2 separate regions of the Homo sapiens genome follow, and region 2 is linked to region 1. Evidence: fine-mapped expression QTL. A gene starts in region 1. The other region holds a variant in brackets. All regions are shown on one strand. Distances are from middle to middle.

The links. PIP is the estimated chance that this variant, and not a neighbour inherited with it, causes the effect.
Region 2: its variant is the best candidate, but not a certain one, in a credible set for the expression of DHX32 in whole blood (INTERVAL, PIP 0.63).

What each region holds. Positions count from the first base shown.
Region 1 is chr10:125,879,165-125,884,542 of GRCh38, forward strand. DHX32 (DEAH-box helicase 32 (putative)) reads right to left here and starts at 2,128. Exons shown (of 11, transcript NM_018180.3): 1 at 1,379-2,128. The coding sequence starts at 1,660. RefSeq lists an enhancer at 1,718-2,440.
Region 2 is chr10:125,694,597-125,699,974 of GRCh38, forward strand. LOC283038 (a long non-coding RNA gene) reads left to right here. Exons shown (of 5, transcript NR_033848.1): 3 at 4,528-4,591. Among named protein-coding and RNA genes, the nearest start is that of TEX36, 14 kb to the left of the region's middle. The variant AAG/A (reference allele first, on the strand shown) is at 2,948.

The sequences.
Region 1 (5,378 bases):
AGGCACGCACCACCATGCCCAGCTAATTTTTTAATTTTTTATAAAGTTGGGATCTTGCCATGTTGCCCAGCCTGGTCTCAAACTGCTGGACTCAAGCAATCCTCCTGCCTCAGCCTCCCAAAGTGATGGGATTATAGGTGTGAACCACTGCACCTGGCCCACTATCCCGTTAAACAAACAAACAAACTTTAATTGAGAGGCCATTAGGCTGAGGCAATGACAGAGCTCTAGAAGGTCCCACATAAGCAAACTAAAGTCCAATGTAAACAGTAAAACCATACTAGACTTTATCAATCAGAAACTGCCAACTATTCCCTAACTCGGAACTTTCCACTCTAACCAATTTAAATGTCTTTTGTCTTACTTTCATGTTCAGCCTATAAAAGCTCACTGCCCTTGCTGCTAGAATGGGGCTCACTAACCTCCAATGGTTCTGAGTGCTGCGTAATTCATGAGTCATTCTTTGCTCAAACAAACTCCTTGTTTTTTTTGTTTTTTTTCTGAGACAAGGTCTCTCACTCACATCGCCCAGGCTGGAATGCAGGGGCATCATCACAGCTCACTGCAGCCTCAACTTCCCAGGTTCAGGTGATTCTCTCACCTCAGCCTCCCAAGTAGCTGGGACGACAGGCATGCAGCACCATGCCCGGCTACTTCTTTGTAGAGACGGCATTTTGCCATGTTGCCCAGGCTGGTCTTGAACTCCTGGGCTCAAATGATCTGTCCACCTTGGTCTCCCAAAGTGCTGGGATTCCAGATGTGAGCCACTGTGCCTGCTCCAACTCTTTAATATTTTAATATCCCTAGGTTTATCTCTTAATGATCCTAATTCTTTCCCCCATCTTAGACCCCAAAGTGTGTGGCCCCAGGCCTGGATCATATTTAGTTGCTCAGTTATTTCTTATAGTCAGGAAAATCAGAATTTCCTTGTGCTTTTGATTTCAGTAGCTCAGCCAGCTTCACCAGCAAGCACATCCACATATCTGGATTCTCAGACCACTGGGCACTGAAACAGAGCAGTTAATCCCCATACCCATGCTGAGGAAATAACACGCATCACATCTTTTAAAATATCATATACACAATGGATCATTTGAGTAAATTTAATACTAGGATCATTTGAGTAATTTTAATACTGCTCTATAGACAATTCAGTGGTACCCTAAACACAATTAATTTCTACATAGATATTATTAACTTTTCAGCTAGTATTAGTAAAATTAATAAAATTAGGTACGTGATTTAATTATTTTATCTGAATAATGTTTTGTTTTTTGTTTTAGACACTATTATTAGAACACTAGGCTGTGACATGTCATTAAATAACAATTAAAAAATCAACACATACAGCAAATTATTTTTTGTAGTGGTTACTCACCTGAGCGCTCTTACCACATTTAGCATCTCCTGAAACAATCACGATTTGATTTTGAAGCAGGTTCTCCATAAAGGAGTATTTTTCTTTCCATATAGGAAGATCTTCTCTTTCTTTCAGAAGTTTATAATAACGTGATGAATATGGCAATCCATCAAAGGGGTTAAGTTCCAAATCCTCACAGGCCAAAACCTCTTCCTCATCCCCATCGCTGGAATCCAGGGATTCAGGAAAATAGCGTTTTTCAGAGGAAGAGTTTGGACACTCCAGCCCTTCTTCTTCCATCTTGTCTGACAGTGAGCTCACGCAGCTGACATTCCACAAGCAAGTTTCTCCTATCAGTAACCCATTGCAAACAGGGCTTAAAAGCCTATTTATACAAACCCGTATGTTCCAATCTCTAAGACTTCAGTTCAAGGTTTTAGCAAGTTAAATTCCTCAAACCTGCATCTGTTCTCCGTTGCTGTGTTACCCACTGTGCTGGCTCACTACAGCACTCTTCGGCATTGTAAATGATTGTCAATAAACCACACTAAGAAACAAACAAACAAAAAGAGTAAGGAAAATTAGGAACACATATAAGTTAAAAAGAAAATGCACAGGAGTTCAAATGAAAAGCATTATTTTTTTTTTTTCTGTTAACGGGTTTCTGTCATTTCTGCTGCCTGCTTAAAAGAACAGGAATAATTTAGGCTGGTGTTTAAAGTTTGGTGGGTTCCGGTATTTCCTGGCTGGTTCAGAAAATGATTCTGCACTGGGCCTCGTGCTCTCTGCCTGACCTCTATCTCAGGCTCTGCGTCTTGATCAACTGTGAATGGAAAGCAACAGGAGGGACAGGATTGTGATTGTGAGGCTAATCAATCACGTGGTCACCTAATCCCATGTCAAAAGAGGAGCTGGACCCTATAAAAGGAAAGAACTGTGATGACCTGGTGAGTGTTCCTCTAACACAGGCTACAGGAAAATCTATTATTAAGAAATCCTTTACTTTAATGAAAAACATTTTTAAAACTTTTCATTTTCCTTTTGCTTATGTCAGTTTAGAAAGCCAAGTGAGGGGAATGAATTTATTATTTCCTTCCATATGTAGTTATGGTTGGCTTTTATTTTATATATATATAAAAAAGACAGGGTCTCGCTCTGTCACCCAGGCTGGATGCAGTGGCGTGATCATGGCTCACTGCAGCCTCAACCTCCCAGGCTGTTTTCCCCCTGCCTCAGCCTCCTGAGTAGCTGGGACTACAGGTGTACACCACTATGTCCAGCTAATTTCTGTATTTTTTTGTAGAGACGGAGTTTTGCCTTGTTGCCCAGGCTAGTTTCGAACTCCTGGGCTCAAGTGGTCTGTCCTCCTTGGCCTCCCAAAGTGCTGGGATTTCAAATGTGAGCCACCATGCCCAGCTGGCTGGCTTTTATTAATAAGGTCTTTTGTTTAATTAAACCAGAAATCTCTAGCATATTTCTTGAGATTCCTGGGTCTTGAGCCCAACATGTCAGCTCCAAGAGGCCATTAAGGACAACTTTTAATTTAAATGAAGAAGAGAAATCACCCAAGAAAGAGCAAGATTTATACCAATAACTCAGTCCCCACATGTCAGGTGAAGGGTCTTTCCCCTTCCAATTACTAGTGATTAAAAAGAAAAATTCCATTAGTGTTGCTGGAAATAAGCTCCTTTTCACATTAACCAGATAAAAATGAAAAAGAAAACTCAAGTTAAAAAGAATAATAAAATACAGTTCATGATATTTTGTAAGTTACTGCACTTTTCGGATCACCTGGTTTACCTTAATTATTGCTTTAGATGGTTGGAGCCAGTGTGCTCAACAGCTAGTTCCTAATTAGTAAGTGATAAGAAAAGCTCTCTCTCTATTGGTCAAGACAGGCTCCAGGGCAACAGTCAATCACTCAAAAAACATTTGCTGAGTGTCTTCTAAGGGCTTATTAGATGAGTAAACTAGGCACTAGATACACACATAAAGGATATTTTGAAGATGGCAGCAAGAGCAGGATAGAAAGTTTTAAAATTCACAGATGAACAAGCTAGTTTAGAGGTAAGTAACCAGAGAGGCAGAAGAACTTCATAGCTCTTCCCAAGTAAAGTTCTTAAAAATTCATCTAAAAGCCAGTGTTTCAAAATTAAAATGGAATTACAAAGGCATAATAGAAATGTTGTAATATGGATTCACTTCAGAACTCTTCACTGCCTCTATAAGGTGAGAGTAGACCCACAGAATAGCTCCAGGAAGCATGGTAGCTTGAGATCATCGCACAAGCTAATTCTGGGAAGGTATCCAAGAATCAGAAAATTCCACTCTTCAGAGAAGTTAAAATTTAATTTTATATTCTATTTTTCTTTTGTTCTGATTAGAATCCCTTCCAAGGGTTCTCAGCCTACATGTAAATTAAATTGCTATTAAATATTATAACCAATGATTGCCTTAGGTAGTATTTCTTAACTGTTTTACCTTAAAAAAAGAACAGCTATTATTTTTACCAAAAAGAAATGTTTCTCTTATTTATAATACTCCCTAAGAGTGTAATAATCTTATAATTACAGTAAATTCTTACTTATAAAGCACTGACCACTTTGAACCCTGAGGAAATAATCAAGTTTTCTGAATAGTCTTCTTTCTAAAGACCTGAGACTTACCTGGCCCCTTCATCACACATTGTGCAATGTATCCACACACATTAGCCTTAACCACTTCTCTGTTATAGTGGAATTAAAGATGGCCACAGATTATTTGCCACTGTTCCAAATGGAGAGGTAGAGTCTATTTCCTCTCCCCTTGAATCTGAGCTGGCCCTGTGACCAGTGTCACTATGACTAAAATAATGCAGTTAAGTGATACTGAATCACTTCCAAGATATTCCCATGCTTGAAACACTCCTCTTTAGAACCAGCTGTCATTCTATGAGGTACCCACGCCCAAGCCACCGGGAAGAGACCAAAGCTGAACTTCCAGTCCACAGCAGCATAAACCTTCAACCATGTGAACAAGCTGCCTAAGATGCCCCAGCCCAGTCGAGCCTCCAGATGACTGCAACCCCAGCCAACTGAGCAGAAGCAGCATCCACAGGAGCCCATACAACCCAAAGTATCATGAGACAACAAATGGTCACTGTTTTTGTAAGCTACTAAGTTGCAGGGTGGTTTGACTTGCAGAAACAGATAACCAGACTTCTGCCTTCTTAAATAAACTATACTCACAATTTAACTTTTTCATTGTGACTCAAGGTCACCATTACATCAGTTGCCAAAACAGAATGATGTCCTCAGATGTCTCCGAAATCTACAGAAGCCAAAGACCAGACTGCTCTCCTGGAGCCCTGCTCTTCCCTGGGGACTCAGAACCCATGCCACTGTGTGGTGTGGCCTCTTACCTTGTGAGGCTCTTCTCTGCCTTTCTAACCTGCTCTCCTAACCGGTGCATTAGAAGCCAGACAAGCTTGTTTGACAGACACATTTGTAAAGCTTGAGTCCACAAAGGATGCTACCATTGAATCCAATGAGTCTGAGGCGCAAAACTATGACATTTATAGACTCTGGAACATCTATTTCGACTACTCAGAAGGACCTTTTGCTGCTATATGGTTTGGATTCCAAATTTGGAGGGTGGAGTGGCTGAGACCTAACTAGAGGAGTTGGGCCCATTGACTCCAATAACATTCATATACCTCTCCTTATTCATCTTGCAACTGGTGTAAGCCATGTAAATGTTTTTTCCTAGAGGTAATTAAATATGTACCAAAGATCTATGTCTTGGCCTTTGGCAAATTTAACAGTACCAGTCTAAAGAAAGAGAAACAAATAATATGGTAGGTTAGATGTCATTCAAAATAAAGTTTCATAACTGTTCTGTTGTAAGTATAAACTACATTCCACTATAAGAAATTTAAATCTGAAAGATTGACATTTGCTCTTTCAAAGCTATCATACATGTATATTGTAGATGGCACACTTTGTCAAGGACAGCTATTTGAAATCAATCTATTACAGCT
Region 2 (5,378 bases), 180 kb before region 1:
AAGAAGGTATGGCAAACCAAGTAATGTATGATCAATGTCTTGCGGCAATTCAAGACCCAGACAATTGGAAGGCTGTATAAATTAAGCTACAAAACCCAGAGAACTAGAGGTGGTCTGCAAAGAATAGAGACGACCAGACTGGCTGACGGTCAAATCATAAATTTGCATGTGTTCCAAAAACGTGTTCCACCGGCAATCCTCCAAATTGTGTCAGGTGCTTAAAATACCACAGTGCATAATAGGTGATCCCTATTCAAGGGTTCAAATCCTGACCGAGGAACGCATCCACATTTCCACAGAAGCACTGTCATTCCACCCTGTGGCAGGCAGAGAAGCTTTCCTGTCAGCTCCTATGGAATCCACTTTAATAAGCCTTGCACTATGGAATGTGAAATCATAGAAAGCTTAAAGAATGCTGAGACATGGTGCTTGGCCTCACCCCAGACTCTTAAGAGGGAAGCCTTACAGTCAAACAATGAGTAATAATAAACCTCCAAGTTCCAGTAAAATTCCTGATAAGATCTTTAAGCAGGAAGGCCATGACCAGCTAAAGTGTCTTTATGGGTTCCTCTAAACACAGTCGTGAAATTTTCAAAGCTTCCACCCTCAGGAATCAGACTCAAAAGAAATAAATTGTGTGTGTGTGTGTTACATATAAATCTTCTCCATTATTGAAAGCTTTTGGCATGATTTCTTTAGTATCCAGTGCTAATTTTTACAGTAAATAGACAGCCTGACAGATTCTTACCTAAGGGGTTAAGGCAGGTGCCAAGGGCACTGGCCAAGTGATCCAGACCAGGGTTGGGTCACAGGGGCCAGATCTGAATTTACAGGGCAGTCATGGGGGACTCGGAGGCAGGAGGAACTGGGTGCATGGAGGCCATTTGGGGCTTGCCTCTCCAGCATCCAGCATCCCTCTTTTTCCAACAATAGCTGTCTCTCCATCTCTCCTGATTGTCATTCCATATGGCTTAAGTGGAGTTGATTCTGCCCTTGCTCCAATACCAGCCAATCAGAGCAGCCCATTCCCCTGGCAGTAATGTTTGCTTCTGCCGTGGGTACATGACCCAAATCAGAGCGAATTAAACTCCGTTCTAGACTCTTATTTGGGCAGAGAATCTCAATCTTTCCTGACAGATTTGAATCTAAAAGCACATGGGCTGGCATTTCTGCTGCCACCTTCCCACGCCCATGCCTCGAGAATGAGGCCAACTCTTGGAGAAGGCTGTGGGAGGAGCTGAGGGGTCTTGGGTTCTGGCAACTCCAGCTGAACCTGCACCTGAACCCGGCAGTACCTCTGAACCTTTCTGCACATCAACCAATAAAGTTTCCTTCTTGCTGTTAAGAGGGAATGAAGATTGAGGGAGAAGCTAGGAAAGAAAGAAGACTTGGCCTCCCAGGCTGAGTGTGAGAGGACGCTATGGAGATGTGCCATACTAGACAAGTTTCTTTCCAGTGGGAAAGAGAGAGATGGGGCCACTGGAGGGTAGAGGGAAAGAAAAAAACAGGCTCTGCTCTCCCAGGATCAGAGACTCCTACCAGAGTCCAGGCTAAAGCCTCCAAAGCCCAGGACCACATGTCTCTCCCTGACCCATGTTTCTGACCCATCCCCTGCTGTCCACCAATGCTGAGCATGTCTCAGTCCTCTACCATGCTTAGCCTCTGCAAGACAGGGTCTCCTGGTATTGACTGTCTCCAGGAGAGCAGGTGGGAAGCTGAGCCCCAATGTGGGTGGGGAAAGGAGAGGGGGAATTCCAATTCCCTGGTCCCTGTGGACCCTCCAACCCCAGCCCACCCACTTTGGGTTTGATGTCACCTGCAAAGCACCATTGTTCCTCCTGGGAAAGGACTTCTTTTGGAAAATCCTGGGGCCTTCACGACAGCCCCACCGCTCATCCTATAATTTCAGCTTTCCCTCCACCTGGCACAGACAGACCAGATGCACACCTCAGGGACCAAGCGACCCCTTCTTGTCCTGAGTGTAGTTTCCTTTTTGTTGACAAGACCAGCTCCTCTGTTACCCACAGGGCCCAGTCACTCCCTTTAGGGTCTGACAGGCATGGTAAGGAAGTTATGAAAACTTTGAAAAAGCAAAAGGCAAAGGCCCCACCAATTCAATTTCATAGAATAAAATTGATAGGTTCCATATTCAGTATATTCCCTTAATCATCCCCATATCAGTATCATTCATATGCAATTGTTTATTTTTCTGTTAAAAATCAGCATTCTCATCTGGCAACTTTGTTGACCATGTTTTCTGGATTTCAGTGCACTTGGACTCTTCGGTCTGAAAAAATTGCTAACCTCTGTTTTAACCCAATCTCCAGTGCAGTAAAACAATGTTTAAAAAGCACATTCAGAATAATTTGTTATTATTATATAATAAGTCATACTTGAAAACAAAACTCACCTGAATGCTAATGCCTCACTATTTCTTTAGACAGCAGGAATATTTCCCAACACTTAGAAAGCAAACAACAGGCCAGGTGCAGTGGCTCACACCTGTAATCTCAGCATTTTGGGAGGCCGAAGTGGGCGGATCACATGAGGCCAGGAGCTCAAGACCAGCCTGGCCAACATGGCGAAACCCCGTCTCTACTAAAAATACAAAAATTATCCAGGTGTAGTGGTGCACGTCTGTAATCCCAGCTACTCGGGAGGCTGAGGCACAAGAATCATTTGAACCTGGGAAGTGGAAGTTGCAGTGAGCCAAGATCACGCCACTGCACTCCAGCCTGGGCAACAGAAGGAGACTCAAAAAAGAAAGGAGGAAGGGAGGGAGGGAGGAAGGGAGGAAGGGGAAGGAAGGAAAAGAAGGGAAGGAAGGGAAAGAAAGAAGGAAAGAAAAAGAAGGAGGGAAGGAAGGAAGGAAGGAGGGAGAGAGGGAGGGAGGGAAGGAAGGAAGGGAGGAAGGAAAAAAAAGAGAAAAGAGAGAAAGAGAAAGAGA[AAG/A]AGAGAAAGAAAAGTGAAAGAAAGAAGAAAGCAAGAAAGAAGAAGGAAGGAAGGAAGGAAAGAAAAGAAAAGAAAAAGAAAGAAAGAAAGAAAGAAAGAAAGAAAGAAAGAAAGAAAAAGAAAGAGAAAGAAAGAAAGAAAGAAAGAAAGAAAGAAAGAAAGAAAGAAAGAAAGAAAGAAAGAAAGGAAAGAAAAAGAAGGAAAGCAAGCAAGGAAGCAAGTAGCCAAAGCCCTGGGAACCCATCGAGGAATGGCCCCGGAGGCAGAGTTACCCTCAGGTAAGAGCACAAGCTTTGGAGGTAGCCAGCCTGGTTTTGCACCCTAGTACTGCCGCTTATTAGACGTGCCATACTGGGCAAGTTATTTAACCTTTTCATGCATCAGCTTCTCATCTATAAACGATAGTGCCTATGTGGGAATGCAGTGGTGGTTGAAGAAAGGAGAAAAGGGCCCAGGACATCAGAAATGGGTAGGACTAGAGCTAGGGGAGCGGTACAGCTTGGAGGCTCTGGAAGTGAGTCCTGGAGTCAGGGCTTTGAGACATGAGAGGAGGCTATGGCAGAGGCACATGTTCTCTGTGCAAATCCAAGGAGCCCACCAGGAAGACCCCGAATTCCCATTACTGGCGTATCCACCGACTCTTGCATGTCCTGACCTCCTTGGAGGCTGCCTCTCGCTCTCATTTTCTTTTCTGCTCAGACACCTACAGCTGTGTTGGTAGCTGCCCTTCTAATGGCTTGGGGGTGGGGGAGCACAGCCAGGGGGCACGTAGCTGGGATGAGGGTGAAGAGGAGTGCTATGGAGAAGGGGTCTCAAGTACTAAATTGAAGCCGGGAAGGCTCAAAGGCAAATATGGATTCTCTACAGCTCTGATGGAAAGCCTTGCTCCAATCTGAATTCTGGTCTTCCAAGAAAAATCACAAGCAATGACAGGCTCTTTAATATGGGTTCCAGCCACAGGCCAGAGATCAAACGTCGCTGAACCAGTGTGAGGAAAAGAATGGCAGGCAGACGTCTTCTTTTTCCGCACACAGACTGTAATCAGCTCTCCACAAGGTCATCCCAGAACACCAAGGACAGTCCAGATACCTCCAGGCTCTCCTCAGTAATGGACGGAAGCAGTGGTGCAGATAATCTGCCCAAATGGCGGGTAATCCAAAAGCCATTTCTATCTGGCCTTGGGAGAAGCTTCTGTGCTCGTTCTGAGTGTGGGTGTGTGTGAGCCTCCCTGCCAGGTCCATGTGCACAGTGAGGCTGCTCTCAGGGAAGGTGTCCTCCTGCTGGCAGCAGGGGCCATGGGTACTGGCAGGGAGTTGGCGATGGAGAGGACAGTTCAGGAAGAAAAGGGTGCAGGTGGGCTCCATTTGGCCTCCTTCCTTGGTCCATTCTCATCTTCCTGGGCCCTGCGGATGCATGGCCTGGGCTGCTTTGCCCTCTGGCTTTCAAGCTGGTTTGAGCTATAAGAGATGGAGCAGAGAAAGGAGAGGAAGGCCAGCATCTTTCTTCCCTGCTTCCTTCAGGCTCTGGCATCCGGTGCAGTCTTGCTCGTCATCTCCGCTTCCCTCTGCTTCTTCCCAGGCTCCAGTTCTCCCTGGATTCCAGGAACACCATCTCCTTCCTCGTCCCTTCCATCCCAGGGAAGGTAAGAGAACTTACATTCGATAGAGAAAACACTGTTTTTTTAACCAAAGCTATGTGGGAGTGGGGACTGGGAGTGTATGTAGAAAGGCAGGGAGTTGATTATGCTTAAGTCCTTGTCTATCTAATTTACCGTGCCTAGAAGTAAAAAGATAATGTAAGAACAGACACATCAAAAAATAGCTGCCCAGAACTGAAAACAAGGACTTGAATAGATGTTTGTACACCTATGTTCATAGCAGCATCATTCACAGTAGCCACAGGCAGAAGAAAACTAAATGTCCATCGACAGATGAAGAGAAACAAAATGTTACATATAAAAACAATAGAATATTATTCAATCTTAAAAAGGAATGAAATTCTGTACAACGTGGATGAAACTCGAGGACATTATGCTAAGTGAAATAACCCAGTCTCAAAAGGACAAATATCATACGATTCCACTTACATGAGATACCTAAAATAGGCAAATTTATAGCGACAAAAAGTAGAGTAGTGGTTACCAGGCCCTGGGGACAAAGGGGAATGGTGAGTTATTGGTTAATGGGGACTGAGTTTCTGTTTATGAAGATGAAAGCATTCTGGAGATGGATAGTGGTGATGATTGCATGACATTGTAGATGTACTTAATGTTAGTGAATTGGACACTTAAAATAGTTAAAGTGGTTAAAAAATAGCTGTGTAAGAATACTATTTAAAGTTATGGTGGTGACTGTCAGGAGCAGGGGTGGAGAGGGGTTGTGAGTGCTTAGCACCAGGAAGTGATACTCGGGGGCTGGAGGAATACTGCA